Linked DNA regions of Homo sapiens: all the other regions are linked to region 2. The links come from fine-mapping of genetic effects on gene expression. A gene starts in region 2. Each other region holds a variant in brackets. All regions are shown on one strand. Distances are from middle to middle.

What was found. PIP is the estimated chance that this variant, and not a neighbour inherited with it, causes the effect. A credible set is the group of variants that fine-mapping cannot tell apart.
Region 1: its variant is the best candidate, but not a certain one, in a credible set for the expression of JMJD7-PLA2G4B in monocytes (CEDAR, PIP 0.51).
Region 3: its variant is the best candidate, but not a certain one, in a credible set for the expression of JMJD7-PLA2G4B in coronary artery (GTEx, PIP 0.67).

What each region holds. Positions count from the first base shown.
Region 1 is chr15:41,791,166-41,795,282 of GRCh38, reverse strand. The region is part of intron 2 of MAPKBP1 (mitogen-activated protein kinase binding protein 1); the gene reads right to left. Among named protein-coding and RNA genes, the nearest start is that of MAPKBP1, 19 kb to the right of the region's middle. The variant T/G (reference allele first, on the strand shown) is at 2,464.
Region 2 is chr15:41,825,933-41,830,049 of GRCh38, reverse strand. JMJD7-PLA2G4B (JMJD7-PLA2G4B readthrough) reads right to left here and starts at 1,958. Exons shown (of 25, transcript NM_005090.4): 1 at 1,862-1,958. The coding sequence starts at 1,925. It overlaps MAPKBP1 (mitogen-activated protein kinase binding protein 1), which reads right to left. Exons shown (of 31, transcript NM_014994.3): 31 at 2,195-4,117. JMJD7 (jumonji domain containing 7) reads right to left here and starts at 1,958. Exons shown (of 8, transcript NM_001114632.2): 1 at 1,862-1,958. The coding sequence starts at 1,925. RefSeq lists a silencer at 1,981-2,070 and enhancers at 1,805-2,099, 2,131-2,360, 3,406-4,117.
Region 3 is chr15:41,714,915-41,719,031 of GRCh38, reverse strand. All of the region lies in intron 9 of MGA (MAX dimerization protein MGA), which reads right to left. Among named protein-coding and RNA genes, the nearest start is that of MIR626, 25 kb to the right of the region's middle. The variant A/CTTACA (reference allele first, on the strand shown) is at 1,881.

The DNA of each region.
Region 1 (4,117 bases), 35 kb after region 2:
TGCTCAAAGGTCTCTTCCTCAGAGAGGGCCTTCCAGACTAGCTTTACTGCCATAATCTTATACCCAATTTACCCAGCCTTAGTTTTTCTTTTTTCTTTTTCTTTTTTTTTTTTTTTTTTGAGACAGGGTTTCACTTGTCACCCAGGCTGGAGTGCAGTGGTATGATCTCGGCTCACTGCAACCTCTGCCTCCCAGGTTAAAGCAATTATCCTGCCTCAGCCTCCCAGGCAGCTGAGATTACAGGTGCCCACCATCATGCCCGGCTAATTTTTGTATTTTTGGTAGAGACAGGGTTTCACCATATTGACCAGGCTGGTCTTGAACCCCTGACCTCAAGTGATCTGCCCGCCTCGGCCTCCCAAAGTGCTGGGATCACAGGCATGAGCCATCACGCCCGGCCACCCAGCCTTACTTTTCTTCATAGCTCAGAGGCAGGTAACAACCCAACATTGATTACATCTCTGTCCATGTACTTACTACTGCCTGTCTGTCCCATCAGAATGTGAGCTCTTTGAGGACAGGACCTAGGTTGCTGTCCCCCATGGATGTATTCCCAGCACTTTAAACAGTCTCTGGCATACAATGGGCACTTGATACATATTTAAGGAATAAATGAATGCCTTACAGAGGCTTCAGAAACAGTGAAAGCCCAGGAAAACTGGGGTATTTCAGACCAATAAAGTTGTTCTCCACAAAGTATCTAAAACTGGTTGTGACAGAAAGGCTATGACCGACCGAGGACAAGCAGAAAGGGCACTTAATGGTACAGGTAACATTTTGTTTCTTAAGCTGATGGTAGGCACACATTGCCTATTATTCCACGTCTTTATTGTATGTCTTAAATATTGCATAGCAAATATTAAAAAGAGAGAAAAAATATAGTGGAAGATGTGGTGTGGGGCTCAGGACCTTATGAGCAACATCCTTCTATAACTCACATCCCCACTTCTCTCTCTAGCCTCAAGGCATTTGGTTGACACTCACTGATCTGGCAATGTGGAGGGAAAGAGTATGAAGAACTCAAACATCTGGTTTGTTGTTGTTGCTGTTTTGAGACAAGTCTTGCTCTGTCACCCAGGCTGGAGTGCAGTGGGGTGATCTCAGCTCACTGCAATCTCTGCCTCCAGGGTTCAAGCGATTCTGCTGCCTCAGCCTCCCGAGTAGCTAGGATTACAGGCACCCACCATCGTGTCTGGCTAATTTTTGTATTTTTAGTGGGGAGATGAGGTTTCACCATGTTGCCCAGGCTGGTCTTAAACTCCTGACCTCAAGCAATCCACCCACCTTGGCCTCCCAAAGTGCTGATTACAGGAGTGAGCCACCGCGCCCGGCCAAATATCTGTGTTTGTATTTAAGTTTCTCATGTCTGTCCTTATGCAGCTACATATTTGTATAATTCTTTGACATGTCACAGAACCACCATCGTGAGTACCCCTCTTTCTGACTGCTAAGCACGGCAGCAGGCGATGAGATGGGCCCCTTGACCTGGGTCCCCATGCTGACCTTCACTGAATATGTAGCATGAGCAAGAAATAAACTGTTGCTTAAGCCAGGGGGATTTTTGAGGTGGTTTGTTATCAAGCAGGACCTAGCCCAGAGATTCTCAGACCTTTTGGTCTTGGGAACTCTTCACAGTCTTAGAGCTTATCAAGGACAACAGAGAGCTTCTGTTTATGCGGGTTATGTCTATCAATATTTACTATATTTGAAATCACAATCTGAAACATTAAAAATATTTACTAAATCATTTAGAAATAACAATAAACCCATTACATATTAACATTCTTTTTTTATTTTTATTTATTTTTTTGAGACGGAGTCTCACTGTGTTACCCAGACTGGAGTGCAGTGGCACAATCTTGCCTCACTGCAAGCTCACACTATTCTCCTGCCTCAGCCTCCCGAGTAGCTGGTACTACAGGCACATGCCACCACGTCCGGCTAATTTTTTGTATTTTTAGTAGAGACGGGGTTTCACCGTGTTAGCCAGTATGGTCTCGATCTCCTGACCTCATGATCCACCCATCTCGGCCTCCCAAAGTGCTGGGATTACAGGCGTGAGCGACTGCACCCAGCCCACATATTAGCGTTCTTATTAAATATAACTTTATTTTCCAAAACAAAAATAATTAGTGAGAAGAATGGCACTGTTTTACATTTTTGCAAACCTTTTTCATATCTGGCTTAACAGAAGGGAGCTGGGTTCTCATATCTGCATCTGCATTCAATCTGTCCTGACATTATCTAGTGGAAGTATGCGAAGAAAACCTAGCCTCATTTGGATATGTAGTTGGAAACAGGACATCATGGACCCCCTAAAGGGGTTTTGGGGACTCCAGGCTTCTCAGACCACACTCTGAGAACCAATGACCCACCCCTCTAAATACTACAGCATCTTTCCACATGAGGAAGCAAGCCCACAAGTGAGAGTTCTGGCCTCAAGGATCGCTTGAAGAAAGTGAG[T/G]TAGGAAAGAGGCCCTGCGAGAAAATTACTGTCCATAAAGTCTGGGATTCAGCCCAAAGTTCTGACAGGAACTTCAGCTCCAAACCTTCAAGGCCCAAATGCCGATGAAATACAGCCCAGGAGACACACCAGTCCAGGCAACTGTGTCTGGGCAGTGACTTGGGACACAACTGCTGCAGGCAGCTGGCACCCTGACCCATCCATCTACAGCTCTAGGAACACTGCTTCATGCACAAGTGGAAACTCAGAAGGAAGAAGAGAGGACCCACTTGGTTCTCTACAGTGAGCTCCTCCACACCCAGAATGCAGCCTTGAAGCATGGAGAATACCCAAACTGTGACCCAGCTTTTGCTTTGGCAGGTGGACAGTGTTGAGATGGAAGAAAGCGTATACCAACCTGACAGAGGTGTCATCTTTCCCCTGAAGCAAGGCTACTGGAGGCAGAATTACTACAAGTATAATGTGAGGGAGGGCTTGAATACCCACCACTCCCAGTAGGAACTAGGCAGAGCACTATCATATCCTCCAGAGAGAAAGAGGGCCAGCAAAATCATCTCTCACTTTAATAAGATAAAGGGGTAACTTCATACTAGCCTATTCCCAGGAGAGAAAGAAAGAATAAAGCCACGTGTTTAAGTGCTCTTCTGGCTCTCATTAAAGTAGATGGAAAAAACAGGTGGCGTAGAGGCAAGAGACAGGACTGCTCATTCATACTAGATAGAACAGTAGTTTCCAGCCTGCAGATTGCAGTCTTTTTTTTTTTTGAGATGGAGTTTTACTCTTGTTACCCAGGCTAGACTGCAATGGCACGATCTCGGCTGACAGCAACCTCCACCTCCCGGGTTCAAGTGATTCTACTGCCTCAGCCTCCCAAGTAGCTGGGATTACAGGCATGCGCCACCACACCTGGCTAATTTTATATTTTTAGTAGAGACGGGGTTTCTCCATGTTGGTCAGGCTGGTCTCAAACTCCCAACCTCAGACAACACCTATTTTTAGAGCATGGAGAAGATGAGGTACAGGCAGTGAGAAAGAGAGGAGGAGAACCAGGAAGCCAGTGAAGTGGAGAGCTCCCAGAAGGGAGGGGTGATTAATAGTGAGTGCTGAAAGAAATGAAGGAGGCAAGGACAGAACTCTCCAGAGTCCAGAGCCATCCTCAACAGAGGTGGCACAGCATAAGATCCCAAGCGGTCCCAGAGCCCTAAACATACAATCCTAGACACTGGGCAGGGCCTTCGAAGCTTTTCTGCTCTCTCAAGTCCCTGGATCTGATCAGTTCACGAGCTAGAGGACAGGCACTAGCCAATGGAAGCGAGTCCAGGTGGAGCCAAGACAGTGGCACTGTTAGGAAGGGCTTCCTGCTTGGACCCACAACAGAAGTTGGCAGGAAATGCTTTCCCTTTTAGTGTGAGGGACCACTACAGGAAGTCTGCAATGGCACGGGAGTGGCTGCTCCCTTGAGATAGAGAACTAAGAGGCCAGAGTCACAAAAGGCCAGGGTCCCCTAGGATTTGGCTGACCTCATACTGGTAAAGAAACCCCAGCAACTGTGAGGAAAAAGATCTGTTTTTGTTGCTATGTTTTGTTGCCACCAGCTACTTTCTTCCCCCTTTTCCCTTCCCCCACTTCTCAATCCCACTCAATTCAAGTTATA
Region 2 (4,117 bases):
CCACTTCTGCTGCCCGACTTGTGCCTCCCCACTGCAGCCAGCATGATGACAGCATCTGCTTCCAACTGCCCGCCACTGTCATCAAAACTGCTGGACTCAAACAATCCTCTTGCCTCAGGAGGTGGGACTACAGGCACATGCCACCACACGATGGTGTCTCACTATGTTGCCCACGCTGGTCTTGAACTCCTGGCCTCAAGAGATGCCTCCCACCTTGGTCTCCTGAAGTGCTAGGATTACAGGCGTGAGTACTGCACACAGCCTGGGATTCTGAAAATACATGGAAACTGCCATTTTTTCACCCTTTGGACTTCTGCAATTAGGGATTTGTTTTACTTGCTCACCATTTCCTTTAGAGAATGGCTGCTTTCCTCTCCTGGGGCTTCCAAGTGAGAAAATTTCAAAAGGGATCCAAACAATTGCTTTGACCCCATAACTCTGCTAAGAATTTAACAAGGCCGGGAGCAGTGGCTTATGTGTTCCATGGCGTTCCAAAACTTTGGAATGCTGAGGTGGAAGGATTGTTTGAGGAATCTGAGACCAGCCTTGTCTCTACTAAAATTCAAAAAAATTAGCCAGGCGTGGTGGCGCATGCCTGTAGTCTCAGCTACTCCCAGGTGCTGAAGCAGGAGGATCTCTTGAACCTGGGAGGTCGAGGTGCAGCGAGCTATGATCGTGCCACTGCACTCCAGCCTGTGTGACAGAGTAAGACCCTGTCTCAAAAAATATAAAGTATTTAACCAACAAACATACTCACACATGCGCAGAAGACGCTGCTCCTGCAGACTGGCTTCTTCACTGTTTCCTAAACACATCAGGCATACTCCCAAAGAGGGCTTTGCCTGCACTTACCTTCTAACCTACTTCTTCTACTCTACAATGTACTCATTCAGTACACCTGTGGTTGATTGTCCACGTTCTCACTTAGAATGTAACAGGACATAGACTGTAAAAGACAGATTTGTTTTGTTCAGTGATGTATCTCAAACACACTGAACAGAGCCTGGCACACAGAGATGCTGAATAAGTATTTGTTAAATCAATCCTCAAAGTATTCGTTGCAGCATTATTGAAAACAACGGATTGGACATGACCTAAATGACTAAGTGAATACAGCACTAGCACACAGACGTGAAAAAGACTGAGGTAGAGGAATGTGAAATGATCTCCAAGATACACGGTGCAGAAGAGTGTGTTTAGCAGGCTACTATTTGTACAAAAAAAGGGTAAAAAGTCGTGTGTGCACGGATATAAACAATCTTTCTGTAAGAATGCAAACTGGGGCTGGGAGGAAACCTTGCTTCATTTACATTGCGTACCACTGTATATTACATACCCATCACATACACATGAGCCTGTGTTGCTGTTCAGTGGTAAGAAATCATTTAAAAATAGAAAAAAGAAGGAAGGAGGGAAGAGAGAAAGAAAGAAAAGGAATAAAAACCAAGCAGGGGAAGAGCCAGGGACCATTTGGTCAGCCTGCAATCCTCCCAAAGTGCGACAAGGGAGTTGAGGTCGGAGGTGGGGCGCGTGGGGGAGGAATCCGACCACCAGCTGTGTGCCTTCGATGAGCTTTCAACAAGGGTAACAGCAAGCTGCTCAAGACTGTAGGAAACACAGGGCTTCGCCGCGACCACGGTCAAGACGGCACCGGGCCTTGGGAACAACGTGAACAGAATCACCCAGGAAGCCGCGGGAGCGCGCGAACACGGGAGAAGGGAAGCAGGTTGCCACAGAAGAGCAACCCGAGCGGGGCCTCAGGGCAGTCGCACACACGAGGTTCCGAGCCCCCGGTGTCAGCGGCATCCCAGGGCCCCTCCCGTGTTCGGAAATCGCCGCAGCCTGTGGGAGAGCCACTCACCCCTTGCAGCGGCCGGGAATTCTCGTAACTCGCTCCGCACGGCTTCCAAAGCCGCCTCCGCCATGGCTGCGTCAGCGCCGGCCGAGACCCCGCCTTTCCCCGACGCCCCGCCGCAGGCCACACCCCAAGCACTCGCCCCGCCCTCCCCAGAGTCCCCGCCGCAGGCCACACCCCCAGACCCTCGCCCCGCCCTTCCAGAGGCACCCGCCGCAGGCCACACCCCCAGCACCCCGCCCCGTCCTGCCCCTGGACACACACCGGGTTCTGCCACCGAAGCGGTGGAGCGACTGGCAGCGCCCGCTTCGGCCTGCCCCACTGGCCGGCATCCCAGGGTTAACAAACAATTGTGTTTATTGACAAGTTCATACATCAGTACAAACGGGCACGTTAAAAACAGCGCCCCCGCCCCATGCAGCCGAGGATGAGGCAGGAAGCGCCGCGACCTGCACAAAGTATAAAAGTTATAAATAAGGGGCTTTCAAAACAAGGCGGGGGCAAATCTGGAGTGGGGCGGCGGTTGCCGGTGGCCTCAGACATGCAGAAGGGGACGGGGCGCCGGCCGGGCCACGAGGCCCCCCACCCACATGGGGCAGAGGGCAGGAAAAGGGCGGCCACATTCTCACAAACTTCTGGCGAAGGGTAGCTCCCTCCTCGTGAAGGACCTGGCCCAGAGGGCGAACCTGAGTCCCACCTGCGGTGGGCGCGGCTGGTGTGGGAAGTCGGGGCACAGCAGGCACGGGCCCGCCCCCGCCGCCGCGGGAGTTCCAGGGCCATGCGGGTGGCGATGCTAGAGGAGTGGGGAAGGGCCAGGTTTGGAGCAGCTCAAGCGCACTCAGGCTGATGCCCCGGAGCTGGGAACCTTTTGTAACCCTTTTTCTTTTTTTTTTTTGAGATGGCGTGTAGCTTTGTCACCTAGGTTGGAGTGCAATGGCGCGATCTCGGCTCACTGCAACCTCCACCTCCACCTCCAGGGTTCAAGCGATTCTCCTGCCTAAACCTCCCGAGTAGCTGGGATTACAGGCGCCCACCACCACGCCCAGCTAATTTTTTTATTTTTAGTAGACAGGGTTTCACCATGTTGGCCAGGCTGATCTCGAACTCCTAACCTCAGGTGATCCACCCGCCTCGGCCTCCCAAAGTGCTGGGATTACAGGCTTGAGCCACCACACCTGGCCCAGAACCCATTTCTTTATAAGCCTCTGCCTATGGCGCAGCAGGGCGGGTGAAGGGGCTCTCGTGGCCTGAAGCTGTGGTAAAGCTGCTCTGACTTACCTGCAGCAGAGGGGAGCAGTAGGGCCCAGAAAAACCTTTCCTCAACTCTTCAACTGCCTCACGACATGGTCCCACTCTACCTCCTAGGGTCCCCTATCTCCTTTCCCTCACCCCTAATTACTGCCCTTTTACATTCTAACTTATCCCCTCACCTCTGCCACTTACCTGTCCCATCTACCACTTTTCTAGTGTCTCCTTTGGCCCCAGCACCTCCCTCCTCTCAAACTCCAGTATCCAGCACACCCGTGGGTGCCCAGCACTGCCTTTGAGGAGGCTCCTTCTACCTAAACCAGGTGTCCTATGGGCTATCTCGTATCAGCTAGGCTGTGGACACCAAGAATCCAGAATCTGGGTTCACTTAGTGTACTGCACCCCTTTTCTGCTCCCTGATAGGTGTTCCACATAAGCCAGGGTGGTGAAGCTGAGGCAGGATGTGAGGAAACCAGGCACACAGCAGCCAGCCAGATACTCTAGCAACCAACACTCAACAGCGTGCTGTGCAGGTAGGTGTGTGTGTGTACATGTGTGCACGTGCATGCGTGTGATCTCATCTGTGGCTGAGGTCCTCAGGAGGTAGGCCAGCGCCCCGTAAACGAGGGATGTTCCAACACAGGCTTCTGACTAAGCATCATTCAGGATGCAGGGAGAAGGTGGCCTCTGGGCTCCAGCAGCCGGCTGGGGTCCAGGGTGGAGGACAGGGAAGAACAAGGGGCTGAGGAAAGGAGGCCAGAGCTTCATGTTTGCCCAGGTGAGGGCTTACTGTCCTGCAGCAACATCCCACAGCTGGCTCAAGTTCTGGCCAGGAGAGTAAGGGGTCACAGGGAAATACAATGCTGGGCCCCTCTTGGAGGGAGAATGGGAGTGGAATGTGCGGGCTCAGGTCCAAATACCAACTCAAGTCTCCTGATGGCTGGGGACACCCTGGAGGGCCAGATGGCTCTGCCTTTCTGAGCTCCAGGTATTGGGGAAAACCACCCTGCTCTG
Region 3 (4,117 bases), 110 kb after region 2:
TACAGTTCTAGTAGCTTATTTTGTAGATTCCCTAGGATTTTCCTATCCATGAATAAAGCCAATTTTTACTTCTTCCTTTCCAATCTGGATACCTCTCTCTTTATCATGCCCTTACTGCACTGGCTAGGACCTCCTGTACATAACGTTAAACAGAAGTGGTAAAAATGGGCATTCTTCCTCATTCCCAGTCTTTGGGAGAGAACAATAAGTCTTTTATCATTAATATGTCAATTGTAATATTTTTCAAAGATTATTTTATCCAGTTGAGAAAATTCCTTGCTATTCCTAGTGTGCTGAGAATTTTTACCAGAAATGAATTTTGTCAATCTTTCAAAAATATCTCTTAATCAGGTGGAGCTTGAACACACCAGAAATTTGTCATTGCCATCTCAACCAAAACTGGCATTAGCAATGTAAAAATCCCAAAACATCTTATTGATGCTCACTTCGAGAAGCAGTTGCAGAAGCCCAGACACCAGGAAGGTGAGATCTCTGACACAGAAAAAGAGAACTACAAGACTACAGAGCAGTGCAAGATTGATCAGAAAGCTGTGGACTCACAAATTGTACGAAAAATCAAAGCTATTCCTCAGCTCCAGGGCTACCTGCGATCTGTGTTTGCCCTGACGAATGGAATTTATCCTCACAAATTGGTGTTTTAAACTTCTTAAGAACCTAACTAAATAATACTATACATGTATATATATATGTATATATATATATATATATACACACACACACACACTACATATACACTACATATATCAAGATATCTATCTATATATAGTGAGATAGATATATATCTTGAGATGATAAATGTTGAATTTTTATCAATTTAACCACATTCACTAATATCATAAATGATCTCATTTAATCTGTTATATGGCAAATTACATAAATATTCATATCTAAATCAAATTTCTATCCTTAATATGTATTTTATACATATGGACATATTTACTAATTACAACATATGATGTCACCATAATTTAGAACATTAATTTTTTTTTTTTTTTTGAGACAGGGTCTCACTCTGTCACCCAGACTGGTCTTTTTTTAAGTCCACTGTAATGGCAAAGTATACTGATTGATTTTTCAAATGTTAAACAAATCCCACACTTCTAGGATACACCCCACTTAGTCATGATGCAGTATTCTTTAAATATACTGTTGGATTTGAGTTGCTAAACTTTTATTTAGAAATTTTACATCTATGTTCATAAGGGTTATCAGTCTACAGTTTTCTTGTAAAGTCTTCTTATGGATTGAATATCAGGGTAATGCTGGTTTCATAAGATGACACCATTTTATGGAAGACTGTATCAAATGGGATTTAGTCTTTAATGTTTTATAGAATTCAACAGTGAAGCAACTCAGACCAGAATTATTATTGCAGGGTTTTCCACTACAAGTTCAATTCTCTAATAAGTATAAGGCAAGCAGTCACCTATTTCTTCTTGAGTGAGTTTTGTAGCTTGTGTCTTTTAAAGAGTTTTTCCATTTCATCTGAGTTCTCCATTTACTGACATAAAGTTGTTCATAATATTGCCATATCATCCTTTCAATGTCTGTACTGAAGTCACCTTTCATTCCTAATAATGGTAATTAGTATGTTCTCTTTATTCCTCAGTCTGGCTACAAGTATCAATTTTATTGATTTTTTTTCTTTATATTGTTAATTTATAGGTATATTAAGTGGGCTAAGAAAACAGAAATGACAAGTTTTATTCTTTCCCTTGGTACTACCCACAACAGCTAGGCACAGTACCTCTGCACAGCCAGCAGTATTTTTTGACAAACCAAAGGATAAGCAGGTGATAAAAGTAAAGGCCACTGGGGTCTACAACAAGGAGGCAGAATTAAAATTTCAGAAATTGTAC[A/CTTACA]AGGCAGAAAAAGCATGAGGACTTGGCAGTCCCCTACAACTCACTTAGTATCTTTATGACCTTGGAGAACAAGTCACTAAGCACTCAATTAGCTCATTTCTAAAATGGAGAATGAAGCCTCCTTATCATATAAGGTTGAAGGTTTAAATGATAGAACCTTCATAGAGAGCTATGCATAACAGTGTCCAATAATGTTACCCATCTTTTTTTCAGCAATGGATTGAACCATTACAAAAAAATTTTTAAGTCTGTTACAATGACAAAAAAAAAGTATTAAATGCTGAGATTTTATGCATTGAGAAGACTAATTTTTTATATATTAACTATATAATAAAAACACACAAAAAACTGTGCTAAAGAATATAAAAAGAAACAAGTCTTCCATCATACCCAGTGTTGCAGTGACAAGTGACTACTTTTAAACATTTATGTTTATTTTTAGTGGTTACACTCAATCATTCTAAATAAAATGCTTATACCTCAATTTCATAACTTACTTTTTTTTACCCTCAGTTTCCACCTATCTTTTTGCAAAACATACTAAAGGATTTCAACTTTTCCAGTTTTTATATTTTTTCTTTGTCCATTTTTGGTATCGGCAACATGTTTACCTCTAAGAACTCTTTCCTGTTTCTACTCCTTTTACATATCAGTTGTTAACAAAAATATCACCCCTCCTTTTTCTTTTTCTTTTTTTTGATACGGAGTCTCGCTTTGTCGCCCAGGCTGGAGTGCAGTGGCACAATCTCGGCTCACTGCAAGCTCTGCCTCCCGGGTTCACACCATTCTCCTGCCTCAGCCTCCGGAGTAGCTGGGACTACAGGTGCCCGCCACCACGCCTGGCTAATTTTTTTTTTTTTGTATTTTTAGTAGAGACGGGGTTTCACCGTGTTAGCCAGGACAGTCTCGATCTCCTGACCTCGTGATCTGCCCGCCTCAGCCGTCCAAAGTGCTGGGATTACAGGCCTGCGCCACCGTGCCCAGCCATCCCTCCTTTTTCATCCTTCCCTAACAGCACAAGAAAACTGATGGCTCCTAGATAGGGAATAGCAAGCTTTGCTTTTTATAATGAACTGTACCAGTAAGAAAACAAAAAAATACTTTAATAATTGGCTATCGGAGTTTAATTATAGTCAAGGATAGGGCACAGGATGAAGACAATAATCAAAAAGCAGTAAAGCCTAAGAGGTAAGCACTATTCCTGCTTATGTGGGCTTCCGTATTTTATTTTTGTTGCTTTGAAATGGAAATGCTTGTCTTAAGCATAAGAAGGGAGTAAACTCAGTAAGGAGATATGGGTAGAACTAAACTAATAAATCTACACTATGCTTCATTTTAAACCTTTAAAATCTTATTTACACAAAGATCATTTAGGTATTTAAATACACTATATCTCACTTAAATGCTAAAATAGAAATAAGAATACCCTGGCACTGGTCACAAAACAGGAGAGGCCAGAAAGAGATCCAGTCATTAATATATTTTAATTTATTATATTACAGGTGACATTTTAATTCAGTAGGAAAAGTATATTTCTCAATAAGTGATAGTACAACGGCTAGGCATTTGGGGGAAATATGATTCCCTACTACAAATCCCACATCAAATAAATTCAGCTATATTAACAACTTATTTTTTTTAAGTCCAAAAAAGTACTAGAAGAAATATAATTAAATATTTTTATAATCTCAAGGTAGAGAAAGACTTTCTAAACAAGACTTTAAAGACAGAAACCAAGCCCTTTGGGAGGCCGAGGTGGGCCGATCATAAAGTCAGGTGTTCGAGACCAGCCTGGCCAATATGGTGAAACCCCGTCTCTACTAAAAATAGAAAAATTAGCCAGGTGTGGTGGTGCATGCCTGTAGTCCCAGCTACTTGGGAGGCTGAGGCAGAAGAATTGCTTGAACCCAAGAGGTGGAGGTTGCAGTGAGCCGAGATCGTGCCACTGCACTCCAGCCTGGGCAACAGAGTGAGACTCTGTCTCAAAAAAAGAAAAAAGAAAAAAAAAAAAAAAGACAGAAACCATAAAAAGAAAAGACTGCCAAGTTTAACTATCACTGCTTTTTCACTGGGGGCGGGTGGGCAGTGGGGGAGGGAACCTTGAACAAAACGAAAATGTAAATTACAAAATTATAACCTAGAAAATATAAAGCTTCTGCAAACTAAAGGAAAAAAACACACTCCAATAAAAGTTAGCAAAGAATTCAAAAAGGCAATTTACAGAAAAAAAGTTTATG